Homo sapiens: one gene and its partners. The protein of the gene in region 2 interacts with the protein of the main gene of each other region in a biochemical or structural test. Each region holds a gene or a part of one and is shown on either strand. Other genes may lie near its edges.

Evidence for each region.
Region 1: the proteins of KCNQ1 (region 2) and KCNE1 form a complex in vitro, tested with the Homo sapiens proteins (2 studies listed by BioGRID and IntAct).
Region 3: the proteins of KCNQ1 (region 2) and AKAP9 form a complex in vitro, tested with the Homo sapiens proteins (one study listed by BioGRID).

Annotation. Positions count from the first base shown.
Region 1 is NC_000021.9:34,510,049-34,513,802, forward strand, and holds the start of KCNE1 (potassium voltage-gated channel subfamily E member 1), read right to left. Parts: upstream 2,163-3,754; 5' UTR 1,979-2,162; intron 1,277-1,978; exon of another isoform or gene 1,268-1,276; 5' UTR 1,053-1,267; intron 1-1,052. UniProt on the Homo sapiens protein: Ancillary protein that functions as a regulatory subunit of the voltage-gated potassium (Kv) channel complex composed of pore-forming and potassium-conducting alpha subunits and of regulatory beta subunits.
Region 2 is NC_000011.10:2,846,862-2,849,613, reverse strand, and holds the end of KCNQ1 (potassium voltage-gated channel subfamily KQT member 1), read right to left. Parts: intron 1,848-2,752; coding exon 1,611-1,847; 3' UTR 509-1,610; downstream 1-508. UniProt on the Homo sapiens protein: Pore-forming subunit of the voltage-gated potassium (Kv) channel involved in the regulation of cardiomyocyte excitability and important in normal development and functions of myocardium, inner ear, stomach and colon.
Region 3 is NC_000007.14:92,076,744-92,080,497, forward strand, and holds part of AKAP9 (A-kinase anchor protein 9), read left to right. Parts: intron 1-111; coding exon 112-264; intron 265-952; coding exon 953-1,132; intron 1,133-2,335; coding exon 2,336-3,409; intron 3,410-3,754. UniProt on the Homo sapiens protein: Scaffolding protein that assembles several protein kinases and phosphatases on the centrosome and Golgi apparatus. Required to maintain the integrity of the Golgi apparatus. Required for microtubule nucleation at the cis-side of the Golgi apparatus.

The DNA of each region.
Region 1 (3,754 bases), on a different chromosome or scaffold from region 2:
CCCACAGTAGTACGAGTGCTGAGCCGTTGTAGGCAGAGAGGGTTGTCCTGCCCACACTCAAGGGGAGAGAGTGCAGGGCCAGTTCACCCCTCACGCGGAAGTGGCAGTGCTGGGGGCTCACTTCGTGCTCTGCTCACCACAACTCCAAACTCACAACTTTATTCCCACCAATCCCATCCCCTCCAGTCCAGGGGGCACACACTCCAGCAGGACTTCAGCTGAGCCCAGGGAACGCTTTGCTGACTGGTGATGAGGGACCTACCTCTTCACACCCATGACACCCACCCGCTGAGCCCCTCACCGGGGCTCCGAAGGCCCTGGTCAGGTCACCTCTGGTCTCACTTTCCATTCTCCCCTCCTTCCTCCCCTCCAGCCACAGGGTCCTTCTCGATGTGCCCAGACATGGTGGGTGCACACTTGTCTGACAGCCTCTCTTCTTTTCCCTTTGCTTGGAATGCTCTCTTCCCAGTTACCAAAGATACTCAGGCTCTCTCCCCAATTTCCTTCAGGCCCTTGCTCCAAAAGCTCCTTCCGGGTGAAGCCTCCCCTCCCATCCTCCTTAAAGCTTCAGCCTCTACCTGGGACACTTCCTCCCCCACTGCCTGCCTCCTTGAAACTCTCCTTAGTCCTCTTGCAGCCCACACAGCTGAACACAGGCAGGAGGGGGCGCTGCTGCCCTGGCTGGTGTGCAGCCACCAGAGGCTGAAGCTCACTGACGTCTGTCTGGGGCCCAGGATCACCTTCCTTGATTCCAGCTCTCTCAGGCTGTCAGGACCTGGCGCTGGGAGGCACTAGGCCATGCCCTGGCCTGAGGCCTTCTCTCTCCCTCTTTGCCCTGTGTCTCTGCAGGGAAGCCCGGCCCTGCCCCTGGGAGGGTGGGGGCAGACGTGTGGAGAGTGGGTGTACAAGGCCAGGGTTTGCCAGGCCCAGGACAGCCTGGCACCTGTCAATGGATGAGCGCCTCTCCCTTAGCCTGATGTCAGGGTGGGCATGAGGGTGGGAGCAGAGGGTGCCTAACTGAGGAAAGGGTCTGTGCAACCCCCTTCTCCTACCAGTTCTCGTTTCTGAAGTCTCCTCAAGCACACTGCGGTGTCCACACCATTGGCAGCAGGCTCCTTCTCTTCAGGTGGTCTTAGGAACTTCTCAGAACTTTTTGAGTTATCCTTCTGGTCTCTTCCTCCTGAGCACGGTTCTCCTGGTTGAGCTCCAGGCCATGCCATTCAACGCCCTCCAGGACAGGCCGAAGGGCTTGTCTGTTTGGTGGTTGCTAAGGTTTGAAAAAAGCCAGCTGGAAACTTAATCCCCAAAGCAACAGTGTTGGGAGGTGGGACCTAATGGGAGGTGTTTAGTCATGAGGGCTCCACCCTTATGAATGGATTCTCTCTCTCTTGTTCTCTCTCTCTCTCTTCCCGCCCCGCCCACCCCTCCTTCCCCAACCTTGTGATACCTTCCACCATGTCATGGCAAGAAGGCCCTTGCCAGATGTGGCCCCTCCATCCTGGGTTCCCAGTCTCCAGAACCATGAGCCAAATGCATTTCTGTCTGTTACAAATTATGTACGGTGTGGTTTTCTGTGATGAACACAGTGCTGTACCAGGGCCCTCTTGCCAAGACAGCCAGCTTATAGGAGCCTGCATGTGAGGCCCGGACGTCCTACAGAGCAGCAGTTAGAGGTCTGGCCTTCTGGATAGGCACTGCCCTGCCCTGCACACAGGACCTTGGTGGGGCATGATGGGGCTCTTCACCACGCTGCCCTCATTTTAGGAGGTGGGCAACCCTTTCTCCCCCTTCTCCATGTGCTTCTGCAGTTGGAAGAAGTGAGGGGGGTTCAGACACACTTAAGCTGAGCTTAGAGCAAAGCATGTCCCTCAAGGTGACCTTGCCGCATGGCCTGAACCTAGAATTCCCCTGACCAGGGTGGACAGCCATCACCATGGGCCTTTCTGCCTGGCCTAGTATGGCTCTCCTTCGAACTCACCTAGACCCTTGCATCAAAGGACTCGGGGACTCTGCTGCAGTCATCCTAGCACGGTCGAGAGGAGTAGGAAGGTGCCCAGCGGCTCAGCCTTTAAGGAGGTCTATTGGTCACCATTGCTTCTGCCTTCTTGAGAACCATCACCCTCGGAGGATCCGGTAGTGTATCCCAGTCAAGTGTCAAATGCGTTGTTCCCTGGAGAGGAAGGCTTATTTCCAGAAAGTACTCTGACGTTTTGTAATTTGTGATTTCTATCACTGGCTCAGTGGCCTACCCACTGCTCAGCTCATGTGGCATGACCAGGCTGGGGCGTCGGGTCATCTTGTTCTCTGGGTGTGTGGCAACACTGGTTTATGGCGTAATTTCCTTCCTGAGAAGAAATTCAGTAATTTCTAATATTCAGGGCTTTAGGTAGAGGCCTGAAAATCACTCTCCATGCCTCTTTCAGTATTTTATATATAGTTGTCTCTTGGTATCCATGGGGTTTGGTTCCAGAATCCCCTGCAGATACCAAAATTTGCGAATGTTCAAGTCCTTTATATATAGTGGCATAGTATTTGCATATAACCTATGCATATCAGCCAATCATAGATGGTGATTTAAATCATCTCTTGATTACTTCTAACACCTAATACTATGTAAATGCTTTGTAAGTAGTTGTTACCTGGCATTTTTTTATTTGTTTTATTTTTGTTGTTGTTTCATTAATTTTATTTTATTTTTGGAATATTTTCAGTCCATTGTTGGTTGAATCCACAGATGCAGAAGCCTTAGACACAGAGGGCCGACCACACCTATGTATGCTGTTCTTAAAGTAGCAACATATTTGTTCTGAACATAGAAGAAATTAGTCGTCTATTAGACTTTAAGGGAGTAAATATGGTCCAAGTTGATTTTTAAATTTAGCAAATAGTCATAGACATATCAGTGTCTTACAGAAAATATTTATTGGAATGCTCACTCTCTCATTTGGGATACTGCTTTGCCTTGCTGTGTCTTAAGAATGTCATCAGAGCATCACACACTTGAAAAACGTTTTTAAAAGGATATGATGATAATTAAGACCTTCTCCCCAACCCCTGCCCATTATCCAAGATCAATGTTTTTTTCCTTTATCCTGATTTTAAAATCAAGTACACTTTATTGAGGCATACTTTACATGAAGCAAAATGTACCCTTTCTAAATATGATAAGTTTGATGAGTTTTCAACAGATGTATACAGCTGTTACCATGACTGTGTCTTTACCCAGGTTCTTGCATTGCTCAATCCAGATACAGAATGTCTCCATCACCCTGACAAGTTCCTTTGTGCCGCACCCTCTAGCCAATCATCTGTTTTGAGGAGAGTTTTAAAACAAAGGTTTTTGTTCTTTTTCACTGATGACCATAACCTACCACAGACAGGGTCTCTCTCTCTCTCTCTCTCTCTTTTTCCCTGTTCTTGCGCCAGCTGCCTGACAATTTGTGGGATTAAAGCTCTAAGCTGCTTACTGGCTCTTCTGACTAGGGAGAGGGAGCAAGCCTCATTATTTTTCTATTCTTTTCAGTGACTGCTCACTCCTCTTCCTCCAAAATCCCTATCCATCCATCCATCCATCCATCCATCCATCCATCCATCCATCCATCCAACTTTCCATCTACCCATCTATCCTTCCATCTATCCAATCCACTTGCGTGTTGAACGTCTACTATGAGCCATTGGCTACCAGGAATCCCACTTCCACCCAAATTATGTTTCAACAGGGAAGACAAACAATTTAACAATTACGATAAAAAAG
Region 2 (2,752 bases):
TAGGAGAGGCGGGCCTCACAGAAAGCTGCAGGAACAGGGTCAGGGCGAGCAGGGTGGTGGCCCCTCTGTCCCACTCAGAGAACTGGACAGGCTAAGGGAGCATCGTGTTACCAATGGGGAAATAGAGGCCCGGAGGAGGCCAGGGGTGAGCATATGGGAGCCTCAGGGGCCCCAGGCCTTCCTTGCACCACAACCCCTCCAGAGTTTAGCCCTTGGCATCCTGGGGAATGGGCCTGGGTGGGGCCTGCTCCCAGAGTGGAGCATGTGGGTCCTTGATGAAGGGCCACCCTGGCCTGGGAGGGGCAGACAGAGAGGCCCAGACAGAGCCCATCTGCCGCAAGGGCATAGAGTCTGCTGGAAGACAGGCAGTGACCACACTGTGACTGCACTTCATGGCCAGGGCCAGCCCAGGGCCCAGAACAGGAGCGACGTCGCTAAGCTAGAGCCTTCGATGGCATCTTGCAGCCCCTCTGAACCCTGACCTACTCCTCAGTACACGGACATAGCGTTCCTATTCCACAGCCACCTGGGCACTGCTTCCAGGGGAACTGCAGGGGTCCTGTCTGTGAGAGACCCCATGGATGCCCCAGGAACCAAGGTGAGAGCAGTGCCCAGCCCAGCCTGTGATTCTCCACGTTTATTAGGAAAAGCTTGCACAATTAATAATCAAAATCACACTGTGAAACTCATTAAAACACAGATCCAAATCACCACAAATTATTGATTTCTATGCGATGTAATGCCCAGAAGGAACCCCTGTCCTGTGTAGGAACCGTCACTTCTCTGCGGCTCAGCAGCTGGCAAGGGGAGGTGGCAGTCCCCTTCTGTGTGTTTGGCTGGCTGCTGGGACTGGGCGAGGGGTTGGAGGCGGGAGCCCCACGCACAGTGGGCTCAGGGGCGGAGAGGCAGGGCTCCTCTCCAGCTAGGAAGAGCTGGCAGTCTAACCCAGGGAAGTGGGCGTTCCCCCCACTCAACCACGTGCCCTGGGGAAATGGTGAGACTGTCCCTCCTGCTGGAAGCTGGGGGCTCAGGAGCAGTCTCCACAGTCTCCTGCCCATGGGTCAGCATTTCCTGAGAGTGAGGGAGCCAGGCCCAGGCCCTCCAAATGGGCTCCTGGGCTTTTATTGCCGGCGGCCCTGTAGTCAGCGTGGGCTGGTCCTGCCCTGCCTGTGCCTGGCAGGGTCCTGGATTTGAGGCTGGGGTCCAGGGGTTGCTCTGTCTCCCCTCAGGAAGCCCCCTGGGCCAAGCAGGGTGGGCCTGCACTCAGCCTGTGCTACTTCCTGGCCATACATGGGCCAGGCCCTGTGCCCTGCCACTGGGTCCCAACCACCATGCCAGTGATGTCAACATCACCATGTGGGGGCCAGGGCGCTTGGGGTAACAACTCAGACCTGAGACGGGGCCCCCACACCGGCCAGGAAGAGGTGGCCTTGCTGAGCCCCCAAGTGCAGGCTGTGCCAGACAGCATGGTCCATGGGGTATTGGGGCCTCTGAGAGTGGGGCTCTTCTCTCTGGGCCTTTTAGGAGGTGGCCTCCTTCAGAGAGGGCCAGGTGGGGCCACTCTTGGCCTCCCCTCTCACTCAGGCCCATCCCCCAGCCCCATCCCCTCCTCAGGACCCCTCATCGGGGCCCCTCCTGGGCACGGTCAGCTGCTCGTAGGTGGGCAGGGTGTTGCTGGGCAGGAAGAGCTCAGGGTCGACGGAGCCGCCACTGCCGCAGGGCTGGGTGATGTGGGCCCCGCCCTCTCTGGGGGGGCCGCCGCTGCCGGGGGTGCTGCCACCGTGCAAGGAGAGCAGCTGGTGAAGCATGTCGGTGATGAGTGCCAGCCTCTGGTCCAGCTGCGTCACCTGCGGGGACAAAGGCAGACGAGAGAGTCAGTGGTGGGAAGCACCCAGGTGTGCAGACAGCCTCAGGGCCCAGGTTTGGGGCCAGAGAAGGGAAGGTGCCAACCGTCTCTGCAAGTGCATGCTGTATGCAGGCGGCACGCACGTGTGCACCCTATGTCTGCAAGGCCCTCGGTCGCGCCTGTGTGTGTGCAAGGAATGTGCATGTGTGCCGATTGGAGTCCATCCCGTGCGTGCTGGGAGTCCCTATATGTGTCCACAGGCATTCAGGCTCAGGGCCAGGAGCTCTCCTCTCCTCCTTCTCTGCTCCCCAGGCTGGCCGGCCTTCTGTGCCACATCCCCGCATGGCAGGGTCTGCACCAGGGACCCGGACCTGAAATATTTGGGTTTGCGGCAGCCTTTGGCTTCTTGAGGCCAGGCTTGGGGACATTTGGGTTAAGGGTCAAGAAAGGCTGGGGGCTATGTCTACTGTGTCTGGAGGAGAACTGGACAGAGGGCAGAGTTCAGCAAGGCTGGCTCATGGGCAGGGCCTGGGGTGGTTGAGGAGGCAGAGGGCTTGGGCTTTGCCTGGGTGTGCAGGGGATGCCCCTGCTGGGCCACTTCCAGGAGGGGCTTGCAGGGCACAGGGCTTGTGCCTCTGTGATGCTTTCTGCAAGGGGGTGGGGGTGGGTTTTTTTGTCATCCCCCAGGAACCATTATGCCATGTCTTTAACCTAGCGGGGACACCACTATTTTCCCAGACACCATCTGCACCCACATTCTGTGGTCAGAGCAGTGCCCTAGAGCGTGCCCTCTGGCTAGCCATGTGGCCTCCACCTTCTCAGGGGCTGGTTCTGCAGTGAGCTATGTGCCAGGGTGGCTGCCCTGCAAAGCTGGCAGGGAGGTCAAGGCAGGACAGAACCCGAAAT
Region 3 (3,754 bases), on a different chromosome or scaffold from region 2:
ACTCATGTTTTAAGCATGCATACTTTGTAAAGCTAATATAGCACTCTTCATTTTATCTTGATAAACGTTTGTATAAACATTTTTTCTCTTTTGATAATTTTGTTATTAAAGATTACAAACTTAGAAGAGCAATTAGAACAGTTTAGAGAAGAACTGGAAAATAAGAATGAAGAAGTTCAACAATTACATATGCAATTAGAAATACAGAAAAAGGAATCTACTACCCGCCTACAAGAACTTGAACAGGAAAACAAATTATTTAAGGTAATTAGTTAAGAAAAACTTTTATCTGTAAATAAGTCATAGTTTCAGTCCTATATTGCTTTATTATTATTATTATTATTATTTCTTTCTTTTTTTTTTTTTTTTTGAGACTTAGTCTCACTCTGTTGCCCAGGCTGGAGTGCAATGGTGTGATCTCGGCTCATTGCAAGCTCCGCCTCCCTGGTTCAAGCAATTCTGCCTCAGCCTCCCGAGTAGCTGGGACTATAGGCACGTACCACCACGCCTGGCTAATTTTTGTATTTTTAGTAGAGATGGGGTTTCACCGTGTTAGCCAGGATGCTCTCGATCTCCTGACCTCGTGATCCGCCTGTCTTGGCCTCCCAAAGTGCTGGGATTACAGGCGTGAGCCACCACACCTGGCCCCTATATTGCTTTATTAAGCATTCGATAAATCCAGCTGTTAAATAATACTCAACAGAGGAACATTAACAGGCAGACACATTTGCATACAGCTTATTTTCAGCCCAACCTGAACATTTGAATTCATCATAAATGAAAATTTTGGGATCATTTATCAAAATATTTTAGAATTATTGATTTACAGTAACCATATGGTGTCTCTGATTTTATTCATTTGTACGTTATAGGCTCTGATTTCTTTTGTAATTATGTTCTGAAAATGATAGGTAATGATATATCCAACTGTGATAATTATTTTTGTTCCTAGGATGACATGGAGAAACTGGGACTTGCCATAAAGGAATCTGATGCCATGTCTACTCAAGACCAACATGTGCTATTTGGGAAATTTGCTCAAATAATACAGGAAAAAGAGGTAGAAATTGACCAATTAAATGAACAAGTTACGAAACTCCAGCAGCAACTTAAAATTACAACAGATAACAAGGTATACTCATTTAAAATTGATTATGAAATTAATATGAACCAGAGTTTTAAAGGGCAAAATGGTTATAATGTTGCTCCCCATTGAATTTAAAAAACAAACCAATTTTATTTTATTTTATTTTATTTTATTTATTTTTTTTGAGACAGAATCTCGCTCTGTCGCCCAGGCTGGAGTCCAATGGTGCAACCTCGGCTCACTGCAACCTCCACCTCCTAGGTTCAAGTGATTCTCCTGCCTCAGCCTCCCGAGTAGCTGGGATTACAGGCACCCACCATCACACCTGGCTAATTTTTTGTATTTTTAATAGAGATGGGGTTTCACCATGTTGACCAGGCTGGTCTCTATCTCCTGATGTCAGGTGATCCACCCACCTCAGCCTCCCAAAGTGCTGGTATTACTGGCATGAGCCACCACGCCTGGCCCAATTCTCTTTTATTAATTTTAATTTATTAAGACACATTGGTGGCCAGGCACAGAGGCTCACACCTGTAATCCTTATACTTTAGGAAGCCTAGGTGGGCGGATTGCTTGGGCCCAGGAGTTCAAGACCAGCCTGGGCAACATGGTGAAACTTTGTCTCTACAAAAAATATAAAAATTAACTGGACATGGTGGCATACCACCTGTAGTCCCAGCTGCAGTGAGCCTCATCATGCCACTGCACTCCAGCTTGGGTGACAGAGTGAGACCCTGTCTCAAAAAGAAAAAAAAAAAAAAGCAAAGACACATTGGTTTAATAATTTATATGTATTTTTCTCCCCTCCTAATATTGTCATAGGATTCTAATGTTTTTCAGAAAGGCTCTGTGACTTAGATTTTATCATGTTATTCTAACCAAATCTATTATAAATTATAATATTTAATATGAGTTAAGTAAGGTAATTACCTTTGGTGCCATCGGTTGTAGACTTTATTTCCGTACTTCATCCTTTTCCATTAAGAAGTATTGATATTGACTATTTTCCTAATAGGGAATCAGCAACTAAAAGCTTATATTACTTTATACTTAACAGAACTTTCTGAGCCTTGTTTGATATGATGGGGGAGATATTGGTCTATAATGAAATTAAGTAGTATGTCTGAGAAGTAGTGTATTATTTTTGTGTGTGATCATCTCTTTGAGGTACTGCCCTAAAATAAAGTAAAATTTTCAAAATGTAAATACATATATATTATGTATGTTACCTTTTTCATTAATTATTAGGTTATTGAAGAAAAAAATGAACTGATAAGGGATCTTGAAACCCAAATAGAATGTTTGATGAGTGATCAAGAATGTGTGAAGAGAAATAGAGAAGAAGAAATAGAGCAGCTCAATGAAGTGATTGAAAAACTTCAACAGGAATTGGCAAATATTGGACAGAAGACATCAATGAATGCTCATTCCCTCTCAGAAGAAGCAGACAGTTTAAAACATCAATTGGATGTGGTTATAGCTGAAAAGCTGGCCTTGGAACAGCAAGTAGAAACCGCTAATGAAGAAATGACCTTCATGAAAAATGTACTTAAAGAAACCAATTTTAAAATGAATCAGCTAACACAGGAATTATTCAGCTTAAAGAGAGAACGTGAAAGTGTGGAAAAGATTCAAAGCATACCAGAGAATAGTGTTAACGTGGCTATAGATCATCTGAGCAAAGACAAACCTGAACTAGAAGTAGTCCTTACAGAGGATGCTCTTAAATCCCTAGAAAATCAGACATACTTCAAATCTTTTGAAGAAAATGGCAAAGGTTCCATAATTAATTTGGAAACAAGGTTGCTACAACTTGAGAGCACTGTTAGTGCAAAGGACTTAGAACTTACCCAGTGTTATAAACAAATAAAAGACATGCAAGAACAAGGCCAGTTTGAAACAGAAATGCTTCAAAAGAAGATTGTAAACCTACAGAAAATAGTTGAAGAAAAAGTGGCTGCTGCTCTTGTCAGTCAAATCCAACTTGAGGCAGTTCAGGAATATGCAAAATTCTGTCAAGATAATCAAACAATTTCATCAGAACCTGAAAGAACAAATATTCAGAATTTAAATCAACTAAGAGAAGATGAGTTGGGGTCAGATATATCAGCATTAACCTTGAGAATATCAGAATTAGAAAGCCAGGTTGTTGAAATGCATACTAGTTTGATTTTAGAAAAAGAACAAGTAGAAATTGCAGAAAAAAATGTTTTAGAAAAAGAAAAGAAGCTGCTAGAACTACAGAAGCTATTGGAGGGCAATGAGAAAAAACAGAGAGAGAAAGAAAAGAAAAGAAGCCCTCAAGATGTTGAAGTTCTCAAGGTTAGTTTTGTATTTTATTAGTTTCATTTAAATACCCCAAGAAACTAAGCTGATTGCTAATTTACTAAATATGGTGTTCTGTTTACATCTAACAATTTATACAAGAAGGTTTTTATAAAAATATACCACTTATAAAAAATAAACTCTTGTTAAAAGAAAAACTAGGACAGGCGCGGTGGCCCACGCCTGTAATCCCAGCACTTTGGGAGGCCGAGGCGGGTGGATCTTGAGGTCAGGAGATCGAGACCATCCTGTCTAACACGGTGAAACCCCGTCTCTACTAAAAATACAAAAAATTATCCGGGCGTGGTGGTGGGTGCCTGTAGTCCCAGCTACTCGGGAGGC